2 separate regions of the Homo sapiens genome follow, and region 2 is linked to region 1. A link means that fine-mapping ties the variant in region 1 to the expression of a gene that starts in the linked region. Tissue or cell type: whole blood. Region 1 holds a variant in brackets; the other region holds the start of a gene. All regions are shown on one strand. Distances are between the middles of the regions.

Evidence for each region. PIP is the estimated chance that this variant, and not a neighbour inherited with it, causes the effect.
Region 2: PIEZO1 starts here. The variant in region 1 is fine-mapped to the expression of PIEZO1 in whole blood (TOPMed, PIP above 0.99). The same link has a PIP of 0.9 or more in esophagus muscle, hypothalamus and lung.

The regions. Positions count from the first base shown.
Region 1 is chr16:88,713,767-88,721,766 of GRCh38, forward strand. It overlaps CTU2 (cytosolic thiouridylase subunit 2), which reads left to right. Exons shown (of 15, transcript NM_001012759.3): 9 at 1-12; 10 at 370-461; 11 at 617-720; 12 at 821-971; 13 at 1,094-1,160; 14 at 1,282-1,340; 15 at 1,416-1,630. The coding sequence ends at 1,485. PIEZO1 (piezo type mechanosensitive ion channel component 1 (Er blood group)) reads right to left here. Exons shown (of 51, transcript NM_001142864.4): 38 at 7,772-7,960; 39 at 7,400-7,664; 40 at 6,850-6,982; 41 at 6,619-6,766; 42 at 6,303-6,517; 43 at 6,036-6,194; 44 at 5,808-5,955; 45 at 3,257-3,445; 46 at 3,040-3,132; 47 at 2,793-2,965; 48 at 2,595-2,717; 49 at 2,432-2,511; 50 at 2,167-2,353; 51 at 1,572-2,088. The coding sequence ends at 1,839. MIR4722 (microRNA 4722) reads right to left here and starts at 2,571; the gene lies at 2,512-2,571. The variant A/G (reference allele first, on the strand shown) is at 3,564.
Region 2 is chr16:88,781,487-88,789,486 of GRCh38, forward strand. PIEZO1 (piezo type mechanosensitive ion channel component 1 (Er blood group)) reads right to left here and starts at 3,734. Exons shown (of 51, transcript NM_001142864.4): 1 at 3,415-3,734. The coding sequence starts at 3,478. RefSeq lists enhancers at 1-2, 23-392, 403-482, 2,965-3,878 and silencers at 2,563-2,882, 3,383-3,862, 3,903-4,232.

The DNA.
Region 1 (8,000 bases):
GTCGACACCAAGGTGGGCCTTGTGGGCTGGGCAACCTCTCTCACCATTGACACCGGGGTGGGCCATGTGGGCTGGGCAGCCTCTCACAGGCTCAGGTCACCAGCACACCTTCAGTGACTCCTGCTGTGGCCCCCAGCAGTGCTGCATCCTCTGAGCCCACCCTGTGCCGTGAGGGTGTGGGGGTGACAGGAGGACCCCACAGTGGGTGCACTGCTGAAGCGGGTTCTCTGGCTGCCTTGAGCAGTCGCAGCAAAGCCAGACCCATGTGGGCCAGCAGCGTGGAACCCACGGCACCTGTCCTGGGGACTCTGCCCCAGCCTGGGGCTGGCCTCTGGGCTTTCCCATAGCCTCCAATCTGATTGTCCCTAGGCCCCTGAAAAGGCCAGCATCCACCGGCTGATGGAGGCCTTCATCCTCAGGCTGCAGACCCAGTTCCCCTCCACTGTCAGCACTGTGTACAGGTGTGGGTGTGTGTGGGTGTGTGCGGGGGGTGCGCGGGTGTGTGCTGTGCGCGGGTGTGTGCGGGTGGTGAGCTCACCACTCGTGCTCAGGCCAGGGCTTAGGGTGGAGCCCCAGCCCGTGTGATTCACCTGCTCCTCCCACAATCCGGCCACAGGACAAGTGAGAAGCTGGTGAAGGGCCCCCGGGATGGCCCTGCTGCTGGCGACTCCGGCCCCCGCTGCCTCCTCTGCATGTGTGCCCTGGACGTCGACGCCGCTGGTCTGTGTTTCATGCTCTTGGGGTGATGCGGGGAGGGAGCCAGGGAGTGGGTGTGGGGGCTCAGCAGCCCCAGGCTCCGTCACCCCCTCTCTGCTTGCAGACAGTGCCACGGCTTTTGGGGCTCAGACCTCCTCGCGTCTCTCCCAGATGCAGTCACCCATCCCCCTGACTGAGACCCGGACACCCCCGGGGCCCTGCTGTTCTCCAGGGGTGGGCTGGGCCCAGCGCTGTGGCCAGGGGGCCTGCAGGAGGTGAGTCCCTGTCCCTGCCACCCATGGCCAGCTGCATGGGGCGGGAGGGGGACCTGTCCTTACCCCACACTGCACGGCATTGAGGTGCCAAGGTGGGCACACAGCCAGCTCTGCTCCCGCAGGGAGGACCCCCAAGCCTGCATTGAGGAGCAGCTGTGCTACAGCTGCCGCGTGAACATGAAGGACTTGGTGAGTACGTGCCCACCTGTCCTGGGCCGGGCTTGGGGACGCGGGAAGGCCGTCACCTCGTGGGTGGCTTGAGGGGGTGCTGGCAGGTTTCTTGGCCCCTCGACACCGGCCTCTGTTGCAGCCCTCACTGGACCCCCTGCCGCCGTACATCCTGGCTGAGGCCCAGCTCCGCACACAGAGGTACTGGGGCCCACACTGCCGTGGCGCGTGGGTAAGGGGCCTCGGGGCTGGTGCCCACTGCAGCTTTCTCTCTAGGGCCTGGGGCTTGCAGGAGATCCGGGACTGTCTGATTGAGGACAGTGACGACGAGGCGGGCCAGAGCTGAGCGTGAGGACGTGCTTGCCGGGACAGCAGGCAGTGGCCACCTGGTACACCACACTGGAGCCGGAAGGCAAGGACGGGGGACTGGCCTCTGATTGTCCATTTGTATAAATAAAACATTTTTTAATTAAAAAAAAAACTCTACAGTACACGTGGGGGACGGCAGCGCCACGCAGGCCGTGGGGACGCAGTGTCCTTCTCTGACAGCAGCATCAGGGCTCAGGCAGGCCGGGAGGATGCATCACAGCTGGCGGCCTTGGACGGGGCAGTGGCTCCCCCGGCCTGAGGAGTGCCGCCCCTTGTGGCCACGCTGCCCAGCAGGCCGGCTCCTTCCCTCTCGGGCGCCAGCAGCAGCTCCTACTCCTTCTCACGAGTCCACTTGATCATGGTCTCCGGTGAGCGGTAGAGGAAGATGAGCTTGGCGTACAACTCCTCCTCCAGCTCCAGCTCCCGAGTCTCCCGCACCAGGAAGATGTCCTGGCAGAGCTTGAGGATGCGGTCCACGCACGGCAGCTCCTCGAACATAATGGAGTGCGAGATCTCGCTGAAGAATCCGCGCACGAACTTGCCGATGACCAGCACGATGGACACGTACAGCCCCATGATGCTGCGGGGGAAGCTGGTGAGTCCTGGGGCCGCCCGGAGCCCCCCGAGCTGCGGGGTGCCCCCCCAGCCACTCACTCACCCGTAGCCAGCCAGGAAGCCGAGGCTCGGTGGGCTGACCTTGTCACTGAAAATGACCATGGGCAGCAGGTTGCAGTCGGTCCGGCACTCCTGCAGCTCGATGACCCACCATTCGAGGAAGCCGGTGGCCCCCGCACCCTGCTCCCTCCGCAGCTGGATACGCACGCCGAGGTAGTCGGCCTCCTCATCTGGGATGGAGGGAGAAGATCGTTGAGGCCGCAGGTCACCCCTCTCTAGCCTCCCCCAACCCCCACGCCCATACTCACTGGGCTGCAGCTGCTTCACAGGGTTGGCTTCGGGCCCGTTGGGGGCACGGATGTACTTGGGGAAGAGATTAGGGATGACCCTGCAGGGAGGTGCTGGCAGGTCAGGCCTGGCCCAGCCAACCTGGCACAGCCCTCCTGCCCACCACCCGGGCCCTTCACTCACACAGACTGGTCCGAGGTGCCCTCGAGCAGGCTGGCCAGCTGCCGCCGTGCAGTGCTGTTGGGGGCCAGGGCCAGCATGTGCTTCTCGTTGGCATACTCCACAGTGCCTCCCTTCGCCAGGTCCCTGGGGGTGGGAACACAGCGTGACCCACTGTAGTGGGTCCACCCACCCAGGCACTGCCCCAAGTCCAGGACGAACCTCTGGAAGTTCCAGGTGAAGCGCAGGGTGATGTCGGCCGTGCCGTTGTAGAGCTCCCGCTTCATCTGGGCACGGCTGGGGGGACTGATGCGCCACAGCGCCCCGGAGCTGCCCTCAATCTGCGCCGTGACGATGTCCTCAGGGCTGTACTGGCTGATGAACTGCATGGCCAGCTGGGTACAAGTGACACCCTCAGTGACTGCAGCCGCCTCCCCACACCAGCTTTCACAGGGCAGAGGCCACTTACCGGCTGGGGGTCAAACTGCCGGGACAGCTCCTCATAGGCCTGGGCCGTGAAGGGGATGATGGACGGCTGCTGGGCGCTCATGGTGAACAGCGGCTGGGGCAGGCACGGGGACACGGGGCCACGAAGATGAGCGTGGAGGAGCGGCTGGGGGTGGTGCACCACCTTGGCCAGAACCCCCAGGGGATGGGAATGGACAGGCGGACCCACACATGCTCACCTCATAGCCGCCCAGCTTCAGGGTGACGGTGACATCGATGGGCTGGTTGACAACCCCAACCACGGAGCGCACCAGCGACATGAAGAGCAGTGGGAACCAGATGATGGCGATGAGGAAGAGGATGATGAGGCCACCCATGCCGTACTTGACGATCTTCTTCTTCTTCTGCCCTTTGGGCTGCGGGTATTTCTGGAGGGGAACGACACAGGTCATACGCTCAGCTCTGCCCTTCCTGCGGGTCACACAACCGCATTCTCCAGCTCACCCAGCAGCCCAGAAAAGCCCCAGCCTGACCTCAGTATGGCAC[A/G]GCGGTAGTAATGGTGGGCAGACACAGGCCAGTGGAGTAGAACTAAGAGTCCAGTTGGAACCCTCATGTTCAGGGGTCGTTGATCTTAGACAAGGGAGCTGTGACCGTTCAGTGGGAACGGACAACCTTTTTCAACACGGTGCAGGCACCGCCCCAGGCAGGAGAATGAAACGCAACTCCTGCCTCATACCATGTGCCAAAATTTACCTCAAAGTGGATCAAAGAGCGAAACTTCAGAGCTAAAACTATAGAACTTTTAGAAGAAAACGGGCAAATCTTCATGAACCTGGATTTGGCGAAGGAAACAAAGTAAACCAGATATTACCAAAATAAATACTTTGTGCTTCCAAAGACACCAAGAAAATTTAAGAGACAGTCCATAGAATTGGAGAAATTTTCTGCAAATTTTAATTGATAAGGTTCTAGCAACCAGAGAATACAGAGAATTCTTCCAATTCAGTCATTTCTAGCCAATGTATCTGCAGAAAAACAGAAAAAACTCTAATAAAAAACAACCCAACTGCTGGGTGTGGCGGCTCACACTTGTCATCCCAGCACTTTGAGGTCAGGAGTTTGAGACGAACCTGGCCAAAAATACAAAAGACTAGCCAGGCCTGGTGGTGCACACCTGTAGTCCCAGCTACTCGGGAGGCTGAGGTGGGAGAATCGCTTGAACCTGGGAGGCAGAGGCTACAGTGAGTGAAGGTCATGCCACTGCACTTCAGCCTGAGATCCTATCTCAAAAGCCCAACTAAACTATGGAGAAAGGATTTGAATAGACATTTCCCCAGAGAAGATACACAAATGGCCAAGCACATGAAAAGACGCTCAGCGTCGGTCAACAGGGAACTGAGAAGAGCCCACAGCAAGCCACCCGTTCAGCAGCATGGCCAGAACAAAAAAGACATAGTAACAGGTTGTTGAGGATGTGGAGAAACCGCAACCTCGTGTTGGTGGTGGGAACCTTAGATGGTGGAGCTGCTATGGAAAACCAGCAGCTCCTCATGATGGAAACCACCACCAGCACTTCCGGCCCTGGCGTGCAGCCACAGGACCAGGGGCACGGGCACACAGACGTGTACACCGGCGTGCCTGGCAGCATCACGGGCAACAGCCCATCAACAGATGAGCATGTTGTGGTCCATCCATGCCACAGAATATCATTTGCCCATAAACAGGAAGGCCATACTGCCACGTGGGTGGACCTCAGAGACACCATGCTGAGCAAGGAAAGCTGATTACAAAAGGACAAACGCTGTCTGAGCCTGTTTTCATGAAATATCCACTGTAGGCAAATCTCATAGAACCAGGACCTAGACAAGGGGTTACTAGGGGCCAGGGGAGGGGAAACCGAGTGACAGCCAATGGGCACTGGGTTTCTTCTTTTTACTTTTTTAGAGACAGGGTCTCACTCTGTTGCCCAAGCTGGAGTGCAGTGGTGTGATCAGGCTTAATGCAGCCCTGTACTCCTGGCCTCAAGCCATCCTCCCACCTCAGCCTCCAGAGTAGCTGGGAGCACAAGTGTGCACCATCACACCCAGCTAACGTTTATTTTTTTGTAGAGAGAGTCTCACTCACTATGTTGCCCAGGCTGGTCTTAAAACTCCTGGCCTCAACTGATCCTCCTCCTTTGGCCTCCCAAAGTGCTGGGACCATAGGCATGAGCTGCCATTGCCAGCTAATTGTTTTATTTTTACATTTGCTGAGGCAGGGTCTCGCTTGTGGCCGTGCAGATCTTGAACTCCTGGCCTTGAGCAGTACCTCCCTCCTGGGTCTCTTACAGTGCTGGGATGATAGGGGTGAGCCGCTGTGCCCGGCCCGGGGTTTCTTTTTGAAGTGGTGAGAAGGCAGATGCTCAACTGTGAATCCACTAGAAACCCCTGAGTTGTACTTTTTACGTGGGGGAGTGGTCTGACGCACGAATTCTCTCTGAGAAAGGCCATTAAACAAGAATGCAGCAAACAGTGGCTGTCCGGTCCTCCCTGCACCAGGCCCTGCTCTGCTGCCAGCCTGCCTGGAACAGGACCAACTCCGCTGCCCACTTCTGCGCCCAGCACTCACTCGCAGCTGCCAAGATCACTGGCCTCGTGATCAGCTAGTGGGTGGGCTCGCCTCATGTCCCCATGGGCTCCGAGCCCTGGGAGGGCCTCCAGCACCACGGGTTCTCGTGGCAGCAGTGCCTCTGTCTTAGGGAGAGGGCATATCCCTGGCCCTTGTCCCGGCCCCCGCCCTGGGCCCAGGCACCTTCTCTGTCTCTCGGCTGCATTTGATGATGAAGATGTTGGCATAGATGTCCTCCACACACATCCAGCTGGACAGGGACAGCGTGGTGTCCGTCCACACCCAGTCCATCACTGCCCGCAGCTCCACCAGGAACGGCACCAGCCGGAACCTGCCCACAGCCAGGGTTCCCGTCAGGTGGGCTCCCTCATGCCCGGGCCGTGACCCCCACCCCGGCGGACCTGCACTCACCCCTGGAAGAGGAAGAGGTTGAGATGATTGTACTTCTTGGTGAGGAAGTTGCCGAGGATGCGGGTGGGGTAGCCGCAGCGGATCTGGTAGGCGGACAGGGCGAAGTAGATGCACTTCACGAAGTACCAGAGCTGGGCCACCACATTCTGGTTGAACATCCTGGGGCGGGATGGCCAGGTCAAGGACCCCATCAGAAACAGCCCCGCAGGGCCCCCAGCCTGCACTGCCCCGCCCCTGGAGACCGAGCGCCCCCACGCGTGGGCCCACCTCTCAGTGACGGCGGGCAGGATGAAGAACATCCATAGGTGGATGGCCAGCACCAGCGCCACCTGGAAGGCCAGCTTGCCCAGCACGGTCTTGCGCAGGTAGAGGGCGCGGTCAACCACCATGGTACTGAACTGGATCAGCAGCATGACCAGGAAAGCCTCGGGTACCTGGTCGTCTGATAGGGAGGACGTGATGTCTGTGGCCGCCGAGTGCTTCTGTGGCCAGGAGAGCACAGGTCAGGGGGAGCCAAGCCCAGGGGATGTGGGTGGCTGCTGAGCTCTGCGTACACTGGGTTTGGGTCCCGGGCCTGGCTCACCCCAAAGGCCCAGAAGCCAAAAATGATGATGATGAAGTCGACAACATCAGCCAGGAACATGAGGGCATAGACGTCGGTGGCTGCGCGGTACTTGGTGTGCAGGATGTCGTGGAAGAAGCGCCGTAGCGGCCGATATGTGCCCTGGGCCCTGCGGAAGGGGGCGCTCAGCCTGGGCCCAGTACCCGCCTCCCCACCCCCACTCCCCAGCTGCCCCCGGCCGCCATCACTCACAGGGACAGGCAGAAGCCCTGCAGCCGCCGCCCGGCCGCCCTTACTCTTCCTCCAGAGCGGCTTGGCCTCTTCTCTCTCCCCGTGGGGGCCTCTTTCTCTTCCTCCCCCTCTTCTTCCTCCCTGTCCTCAGCTTCTGTAGGGAAAAGCTGACTTCTGCCTGGGCCCCCTGGGGACTGGGCCTGGCTCATGGCTCCTGACCACCCTAAGAGGCTGGCATTCTCCCTGTTTGACAGACAAGCAGACGGAGCACAGGAAAGCTCCCAGTGTCACTGGCAAGGAGACAGCTGGGGCTGTGTCCTCTGTCTGGGGCAACTGTGAGGGGCCAGCCCAGGCCAACAGTCACCCTACACGTGGGGAGCATCCCCGGGGGCAGCAGTCAGGGACGGCTCTGTAGGCAGAGCCGGGAGCTGTGGCTCAGAAGTGGCACCTTCCTGGGATCCAGGTGGGCCTCGCACTGGGCTTGGCCGTCTCATCTGAGAAAGACCCTCCCTGCAGTAGCCCCACTCAGAAAACTGGGTAGGCAGGAGGTTGTGAGGCAGGGCGCTTATACCGATGGCTGCCGCTCCTTTCCGTGCTGGGCCCTCCTTCTTCCTTCTTCTAAAACGTAGACTGATGCGCCTCGTATCACGGGGCCTGAGCTCCACTTGGGGTTCTGGGGTCCCGTCCGTGGGTCCGACCCTGGCTTCCACCTGAATGTGGTCTTCGGTGGTGGCCGCAGGCACCCCTGGCCCCTCCTCGGCTCCCTGCTCCTCCTCGCCGCTCTTGTCATGCTCCTTGGATGGTGAGTCCTCCTCATGGTCCCAGAGGCCATAGCACTGAGGGGCGGGAGGGTGTGGTGAGGGGGCCTTGCCTCCCTGGTGGAGAGCACAGGTGCCCAGAGGGCCTGCCCAGCCCCGCATTGCCAGCCAAGGCTCACACTCACCAGCAGCTGGGAGCGGTGGAAGAAAAGGGCCATGAGCTGCACCAGGTCGTACTTGATGTAGCCGTCAGTCTTCTCCAGGCCCAGGATGCGGGGCGGGAAGTAGGGCTTGTTCTCGTAGCGCCGCAGCACCACGTGGCTGTTCCAGGGGAAGAACCCAAACTGGAACAGGTACTTGACGACCACCGCGATCTGTGGGGGAGGGGGCTCAGCACGCGGGGAGGGTCACGGC
Region 2 (8,000 bases), 68 kb after region 1:
GCTCTCCTGCTGACTCATCCAGCCTCCAGGCCCAGCATGGGGACAGAGTGCGCCCCTCTGTCACACCAGGGAGCTGATGCTCAGAAGGGGCCCCCAAGCCACAGAGGAAAGCAGCTCCCACCCTACTCTGCCACGGCCATGCTCTTCCCAGCACCCTCGGATGGGACAGGCCAGGGTTCTGTGCAGGTCCTGAGACCCGGGCACAGGCCTCCGAAGGGTGACTCTGCCATGCTCAGCTCAGAGGGTCTGCACTGCTGAGCAACTGTGAGCCGAGTGCCTGCTGTTCCCCAGCTTCTCGGCCGCCTCCCAGGAGTGGTGAGACCCTGATGGTGACAATGTTCTGAAAAAGGAGGCAGCATCCCTCATGCTAAATGGTGACACTTCTCAGTGACAATCAGCCTGAAGGAGGTGACGCCCAGCTTGCCGGCCGTGGGTGTGCCCCTAGGCTGTGCCACGAGGCACCCTGAAAAGCAGAAGCCATATTGTCAGCCCACGTGGGTGTCCCACAGTCAGTGACACGGTGGCTCCTCTCGCACCAGCTGGCTTTCCGCAGCCCTGTCTAGATTTCCCACTGATAGAACTGGAGGTGCGGTCCCATATTATCAGAATCACAAATGTCCTGCCCTTTTTTTTCCTTTTTCTTTTTTGAGACAGGGTCTGTCACCCAGGCTGGAGTGCAGTCATACAATCATGGCTCACTGTAGCCTCCAACTCCTGGACTCAAACAATCATCCCACCTTGGCCTCCTGAGTAGCTGGGACTACAGGTGCACTACCACCATGCCCAGCTAATTTTTAAATATTTTTCATAGAGATGGGGATCTCTACGTTGCCCAGGCTGCTCTCGAATGGCTACGCTCAAGCAATCCTCCCACCTTGGCCTCCCGAAGCTCTGGGATTACAGGTGTGAGCCATCGCGCCCAGCCCTGCCCTGACATCTCTCTAGAAGAGATGGGCCCTGATCCCCCAAGGCTCCAGCAACATTAGGTGAGACTGCTGAAGGAGGCCCCTGCTCCCTGTGGGTGGGGCAGCTCCCTGCCAGATTTTTGGGTAATGATCCTGCACTGGAGAGGGAGGGCGTGGGGGCCAGGGGCACCCCAGGATGACTCAAACCCTCACCAGGCACTGTCTGAGCCAGCGCAGGCACACACTGACTAATGCCTTCTGAAGGCCTCATTCATTTCCAAAACACGGTAGAACTGCTTCCAGCCAAAGCTCGCCAGAGAGGGAGGGGGCACTCCAAAGACAGCAAAGCCAGTGTCCCACCTCCGGCCAGGCCAGCTGAACCTGCACATCGCGGGTCCATCTGGAGCTGCCCACACCCCAGGGCCAGAGAGCCTGACTCAGGAGTCCCGGCCAGCAGGCAGGCAGGCAGGGTTCTTGGCCGGCTCCACTTCCATCTCCCCCAGGTGACTGAGAGAAAACACTGAGTGAGGCCCAGGCCCCACGCCCCATCCCCAGACACAGAATCAGTGTGGGGTATGGCCCGGGCTTCAGCATCTTTCAAATTAAGAGACTTTATTTGGGACCAGTTTTAGGTTTAAGGAAAGTACCATACAGACAGACAGTCAGTCATCACTATTCTTTAAAAGTTTCATAGAAGACTGACACGGGGCCTGGGTGAGCACCCCTGGGCTACCTCCCCATCCTCCCCAAGGAGGCCAAAAGCAAGAAGAACAGTGATCCCTCCCCCAGATCCCCCACGCGGATAGCAATCGAGAAGGCAGAACCCAGGCCCCCTGACCAATGCCCAGGGGGCAGCAAACCACATGTGCCACAGAATCGGGCTCAACACCTGTTTAGGTACAGCCCATGAACTCAGGAGGGCTTTTACATTTAATGGCTGGAAAAATACCAGAAGAAGAAGATTTTGTGACATGAAAATATTTACCATCTGGTCATTTAAAGAAAAACATTGCCAACTCTGCCCAAGGAGCAGCTGCCATCTGAGAGGGGGGGCATTCCCTGCAGGGAGGACACCCGCTCCCACTCAGACACAAGAGGAAATGGAACGATCAGTGTGAACGGGACGTTTCAGAAGCTTTCCTGTTTCCCTCTCTAAGGCCTGTCAGCTCTAGACTCTGCCTCTGTGCCAGGCTGTCCTGCTTGTTTTCAAGGCACAGGAAGGAACACAGCCGGGCCCTGTTTACGGCCCATCTGACCCTGCACTGGGAGCAGGTCCCAGGCTGCCCAGTCCACACAGGGCTGACCGCACTGAAGAGAGTTGCTCAAAACCTCTCCTCTCCAGCCTCAATGGTTTTCATTGATTCCTGTCTAGAAAATCTTCCCCAAGTTTCACCACCTTTCTGTGCGACCGATCAAAACGCAGTCTGTCTGGGAGCCTCAGGCAGGCGGCTCTAGATCCCCAAAGCTAGCGCTGGGCGAGCTCCCACCTGGAGCGAGGCAAGGGCTCCGAAAGGGCTTTTACAATCAAAAGGCCCCACCTGCCGTGTCCATGGCGGACTCCCAATGCAAACCGTCCCACTTGTCCGTGGGTTAATTCCATCCGACTGCTTCCCAGATCAATCACACGTGGGGAGCCCCCGGGCGGAGGGCGCGGACCCTGGGTCCCGGCTAGGCCAGGGTCGGGGAAGGGTAGGGGTGCCAGGCCGTGCAGCACCAAGCCACCCGGGTGTGCTTCGCGAAAGGGGCACCACTGCCCGGCAAGCAGGGAACACAGATGCCAGGACTGGGGACCCCTGCCCCGCCCTGACACCAGGCCACAGCCTCCGGGGGTGTCCCCTCCCCCAGACCAGGGCAGAGGCCGGCCCCCGCCCCTGCGAAACTGAGCCCAGTAGGGCAAGGGAGGACCAGGGAGGAACCCACACTATTTTTTTCCAAAGTGTGGGACCGCCTCAGTCCGGCAGAGGGGGGTGCAGCGGTGAGCGGGGCTGGGCCCTGGGCACGGACGTTCGTTGGGCTCGGGAAGCTCCAAATTAAACAGCTCCAGGCAGGAAGCCCGCCTTCTCCCAGATTGTCAGGAAGTCCTGATGCAACTTTGCGCTTTTTTTTTTAAACCCGAAAGAGAAAAAGAGATTCGTGCTCCCCCCACCACCGCCGCGGCCCTTCCCACCGGGGCAAACACCGCCTCGCCCGGCGGCCTCCTCTCCGCAGCGCCCCGGCGGAGACGCCAGCCGCGCTATGCCCGGCGCTCGCTCGACCGCCCCCGTGGGCACGCGGTGCCGTCTCCCCCAGCCGCCGCCGCCCTTCCAGCCCGGCCCTGGGACAGGAGCCCCGCCGCCGCCTGGCGCGCTCATGCTTCAGGAATGCGGGCGCCCGGGTCGCGCGTCCCTGGGAATTTCCGCGCCCGCTCGCCCGCAGCCCTCGCCCCGGCCGGCGTCGTCCGGTGTCCAGGCCGTGGGGAGCCGAGACGCAGCCCCCTCCCGTCGCCCCCAGGCGCCCGCCCCCCACTCACCAGCCAGCAGCGCGCAGGGCAGCAGCAGCCAGTACAGGACCGCGCCGAGCACGTGCGGCTCCATGGCTGGAGGGCCCAGGGCCCGGCCCAGACCGAGCGGACGCCGCGGCGCTATGGGGCGGTGCGGGGGCCCCGGGGCCGGCGCGCCATGGCTGACCCGCGGGGACCCGCGCGCCGCCTTCTCCTCTTCCTCCTTCTCCTTCGGCCGCCCCGCCGGTGCCGACGTCCCGGGCCCGCGCTCGCTCAGGCGACCGCCCTGCCCCTCGGCGGAGCGCAGCGCTCGGCTCACTGGGGCCGAGCTGGGCCGGACGGCGGCTCCCGCCCTCCTCCGCCCGCGGGCCTTTATAAGCTCGGCCCCCTCCCGCCCTCCCCGGCGTGCCCGCCTCCGCGCTTCCCCGACGGCCCGGCGCGCCCAGGCACCCCCTCCGCTGTCCCGCGCGGCCCGTCCCGCCTCCGGCCCGCCCTGGTGCGTTGGGGCCTGGAGACCCCCGACTGGCGCTGGCCCGGAGCGGACCCCTCCCCTCCCGCAGTCTTGGCCCCGCGGCTCCGAGCGTGCGCGGCGGTGGGCAGGGGCGCTTCTCGCTGGGTGGGCTGCGGCTGGGGCCCGGGCGCTACATAAGGGGTCCCGGGGCCTCTGGCTCCCCCAGGCAGCGCCCCACGCGCAACTGCACCCCGCGTGCCCGAGCGACTTTCGCTTTGCTCCCCGAGGCGCGAGCACGCAGCGCCCCCTGGGGACCGTGGGGAGGCTCGGAGTTCCCGCGGCGGCCGGGCCTAGTGGTCCCGGAGGGAGCACGCGGGATGCTCGGGTCGCAGCAGTGCCGCGATCCGCGTTGGTCTGACGGGGGCTCGGGGGCTGCTCCCAGCCACGCCGGCCACCGCGCGCGGCTTTGCCCGGGTCGCTCTGGCGTGAGACGGTGAGAGTGAGAGCCACGGCCTGTGCACCTGCTGCCGCGGCGCCCTGCCACGGAGAGGTAGGGTCTGAGTCCAGGGTGTTCGGGACCCTCACCCAGGCCACGTCAGTTTGGCCTTCGTCTGCCCTTGAGATGGGCACAGAAAGAGGGCAAAGGGCTCTACACCGTTTAATTGGGCTCAGTTCATGGCTCTCAAACTCAGCTGCGTAAGGCAGGGAGTGGGGCTGGGGGGACTGTGGCCACTGAGCCTCAAGGCACTGGCAACTCATGAGAGCCCAGCACAAGCCCACACCCTCCAGCTCAAAAAAAAAAAAAAAAAAAAAAGATGGCGGGGCAGTGGCTCAGGCCTGTAATCCCAGCACTTTGCGGGGCTGAGGCAAGGGGGTAGGGGGTCGGGGGATCACTTGACGTCAGGAGTTCGAGACCAGCCTGGCCAACATGGTGAAACCCCGTCTCTACTAAAAATACAAAAATTAGGCCGGGCGCGGTGGCTCACGCCTGTAATCCCAGCACTTTGGGAGGCCGAGGCGGGTGGATCACCAGGTCAGGAGATCGAGACCATCCTGGCTAACACGGTGAAAACCCATCTCTACTAAAAACATAAAAAATTAGCCGGGCGTGGTGGCGGGCTCCTGTAGTCCCAACTACTCGGGAGGCTGAGGCAGGAGAATGGCATCAACCCAGGAGGCGGAGCTTGCAGTGAGCCGAGATAGCGCCACTGCACTCCAGCCTGGGCGACAGAGCCAGACTCCGTCTCAATAAATAAATAAATAAATAAATAAATAAATAAATAAATATACAAAAATTAGCCGGGCGTGATGGCAGGCGCCTGTATTCCCAACTACTCAGGAGGCCGAGGCAGGAAAATCGCTTGAACCTGGGAGGCAGAGGTTGCCGTGAGCCGAGATCATGCCATTGCACTCCAGCCTGAGTGACAAGAACGAAACTCCATTAAAAAAAAAAAAACCACCCAGAAATGGAGATTTTCATGGGAAGTCTAGTGTTTAAAGGCTGATATAGGCCGGGTGCGGTGGCTCACGCCTGTAATCCCAGCACTTTTGGAGGCCGAGGCGGGTGGATCACGAGGTCAGCAGATGGAGACCATCCTGGCTAACACGGTGAAACCCCATCTCTACTAAAAATACAAAAAATTAGCCGGGCGCGGTGGCGGGCGCCTGTAGTCCCAGCTACTCGGAAGGCTGAGGCAGGAGAATGGCGTGAACCCGGGAGGCGGAGCTTGCAGTGAGCCGAGATCACCCCACTGCACTCCAGCCTGGGCAACAGAATGAGACTCCATCTCAAAGAAGAAAAAAAAAAAAGGCTGATTTACTTTCTCTGCAAGTCTCACCCTCTGGTCAGGCTTTGAAAAGTTGCTGCAGAGGTGGGGAAGTCTGGGAGCTTGCCCTGCAGATGGACTTGCAAAGGTAGAGGATGTATGTGTCCTAGAATTGTTCAAGCAGCAAAAAGCAGAAAAACTCTGCCCACAGAAGCTTGTCAAATAAATGATAGCGTGTCTCACAGTGGAGTGCTACACAGCAGGTAAAAAACAGAATCCGGCTAGGTGTTTTGTATCAACATGAAGCTAAGATACAATGGCACTCTGTAGCAGCGGTTAGAGAGAATCCCGCAATTGCTCTGTTATCAAGGAGGAACAATTGCTAAGTTACAGTGCTAACAATTGGGAAAAGCAAGCAGCTACACTCAGGGCCACGCTCACCCACTTGGGGTGGGAGGGAGACCTGGTCTTCACCTATACCCTTTGGTGCTGTTTTAATATTTTGCTTCATACATAATTCACTTATTCACAAAATAAAATTAGCAAAATGGAGACAAATACTCTGAAAAAGATCTCTGCTTGCCAGCCAGGGAGAGGTGGGGCGGGCAAGGGCAGGGGAGCCCACCTGTGCCCAGTTCACTGCCCGTTCAGGAATTTGGACCGTGTTCTAACTCAACCCCTGTTGCAGAAGAGGACGCTAAGGGCCAGAGCGGGATAACCATTTGCCAAAGGAATAGACCGGCCTTTGCACCCAGCTTTCCAGATTCCAAGTCCAAAGTCACTCCTGTCCCACTGACCCACAGCTGGGAGCCCTTTCTCAACTTGCTGTTGCTTTTTATTTTTGTCACTGTTTAAAACAGTGATTTATTTTTTATTTTATTGTATTTTCTTGAGACAAAGTCTGCCACTGTTGTCCAGGCTGGAGTGCAGTGGAGCAATCTCGGCTCACTGCACCCTCCGCCTCCTGAGTTCTAGTGATTCTCCTGCCTCAACCTCCCAAGTAGCTGGGATCACAGGCGTGTGCCACCACACCTGGCCAACTTTTGTATTTTTAGTAGAGATGGGATTTCAAAATGTTGGCCAGGTCTTGAACTCCTGACCTCAAATGATCCGCCTGCCTTGACCTCCCAAACTGCTGGGATTACAGGTGTGAGCCACCATGCCCGGCCAGTGACTTAGTCTTGGGAGAGCAACAATGGTCAGGTCCCCTTGGGAGAGAGGAAAAGCCAGGGCAAGAGGGGTCACAGGGACTTTAAGCTTTATCATGCAGGTTGTAACTTTTTCCCCAATGATAACATAGTCACCATTACTTGTCTATACTTAAAAATTAATTTCAGGCTGGGTGTGGTGGCTCACGTCTGTAATCCCAACACTTTGGGGGCCTAAGGCAGGAGAATGGCTTGTGGCCAGGAGTTGGAGACCAGCCTGGACAACACAGCAAGACCCCATCTATACAAAAAATAAAAATTAGCCAGGCATGCCAGGCAGGCATGGTGCCTCATGCCTGTAATCCCAGCACTTTGGGAGGCTGAGGCGGGTGGATCACAGGGTCAGGAGTTCGAGACCAGCCTGGCCAACATGGTGAAACCCTGTCTCTACTAAAATACAAAAATTAGCCAGGCGTGGCAGCAGGCACCTGTAATCCCAGCTACTCGGGAAGCTGAGGCAGAATCGCTTGAACCCGGGAGGCAGAGGTTGCAGTGAGCCAAGACCATGCCATTACACTCCAGCCTGGGTGACAGAGCGAGACTCCGCCTCAAAAAAAAAAAAAATTAGCCAGATGTGGTGGTGCCTGCCTGTGGTCCCGGCTACTTAGGAGGCTGAGGTGGGAGGATCTCTAGAGCCCAGGAGGTGGAGGCTGCAGTGAGTAGTGATGGCGCCACTGCACTCCGGCCTGGACAACAGGCCAAGACCCTGTCTCAAAAATAATAATAATTTTGGCCGGGCACTGTGGCTCACACCTGCAACACCAGCACTTTGGGAGGCTGAGGTGGGTGGATCACTTGAGGTCAGGGGTTCAAGACCAGCCTGGCCAACATGGTGAAACCCTGTCTCTACTAAAAATACAAAAATTAGCCGGGCATGGTAGCGCATGCCTGTGGTTCCAGCTACTCGGGAGGCTGAGGCGGGAGAATCGCTTGATCCCAGGAGGTGGAGATTGCAGTGAGCTGAGATCATGCCACTGCACTCCTGCCTGGGTGAAAGAGCAAGACCCTGTCTCAAAAAAAGTAATAAAATAAATAATAATTTCAAGAGGCAGCAACCCCAGAGTCTGTTAATGGAGTGTAGAAACAAAATGTGGTCTGTTCATACAATCTGATATTATTTGTCCATAAAAAGAAATGAAACTCTGATGTACGCTACAACAGGGATGAACTTGTGTGTGTGTGTGTGAGACA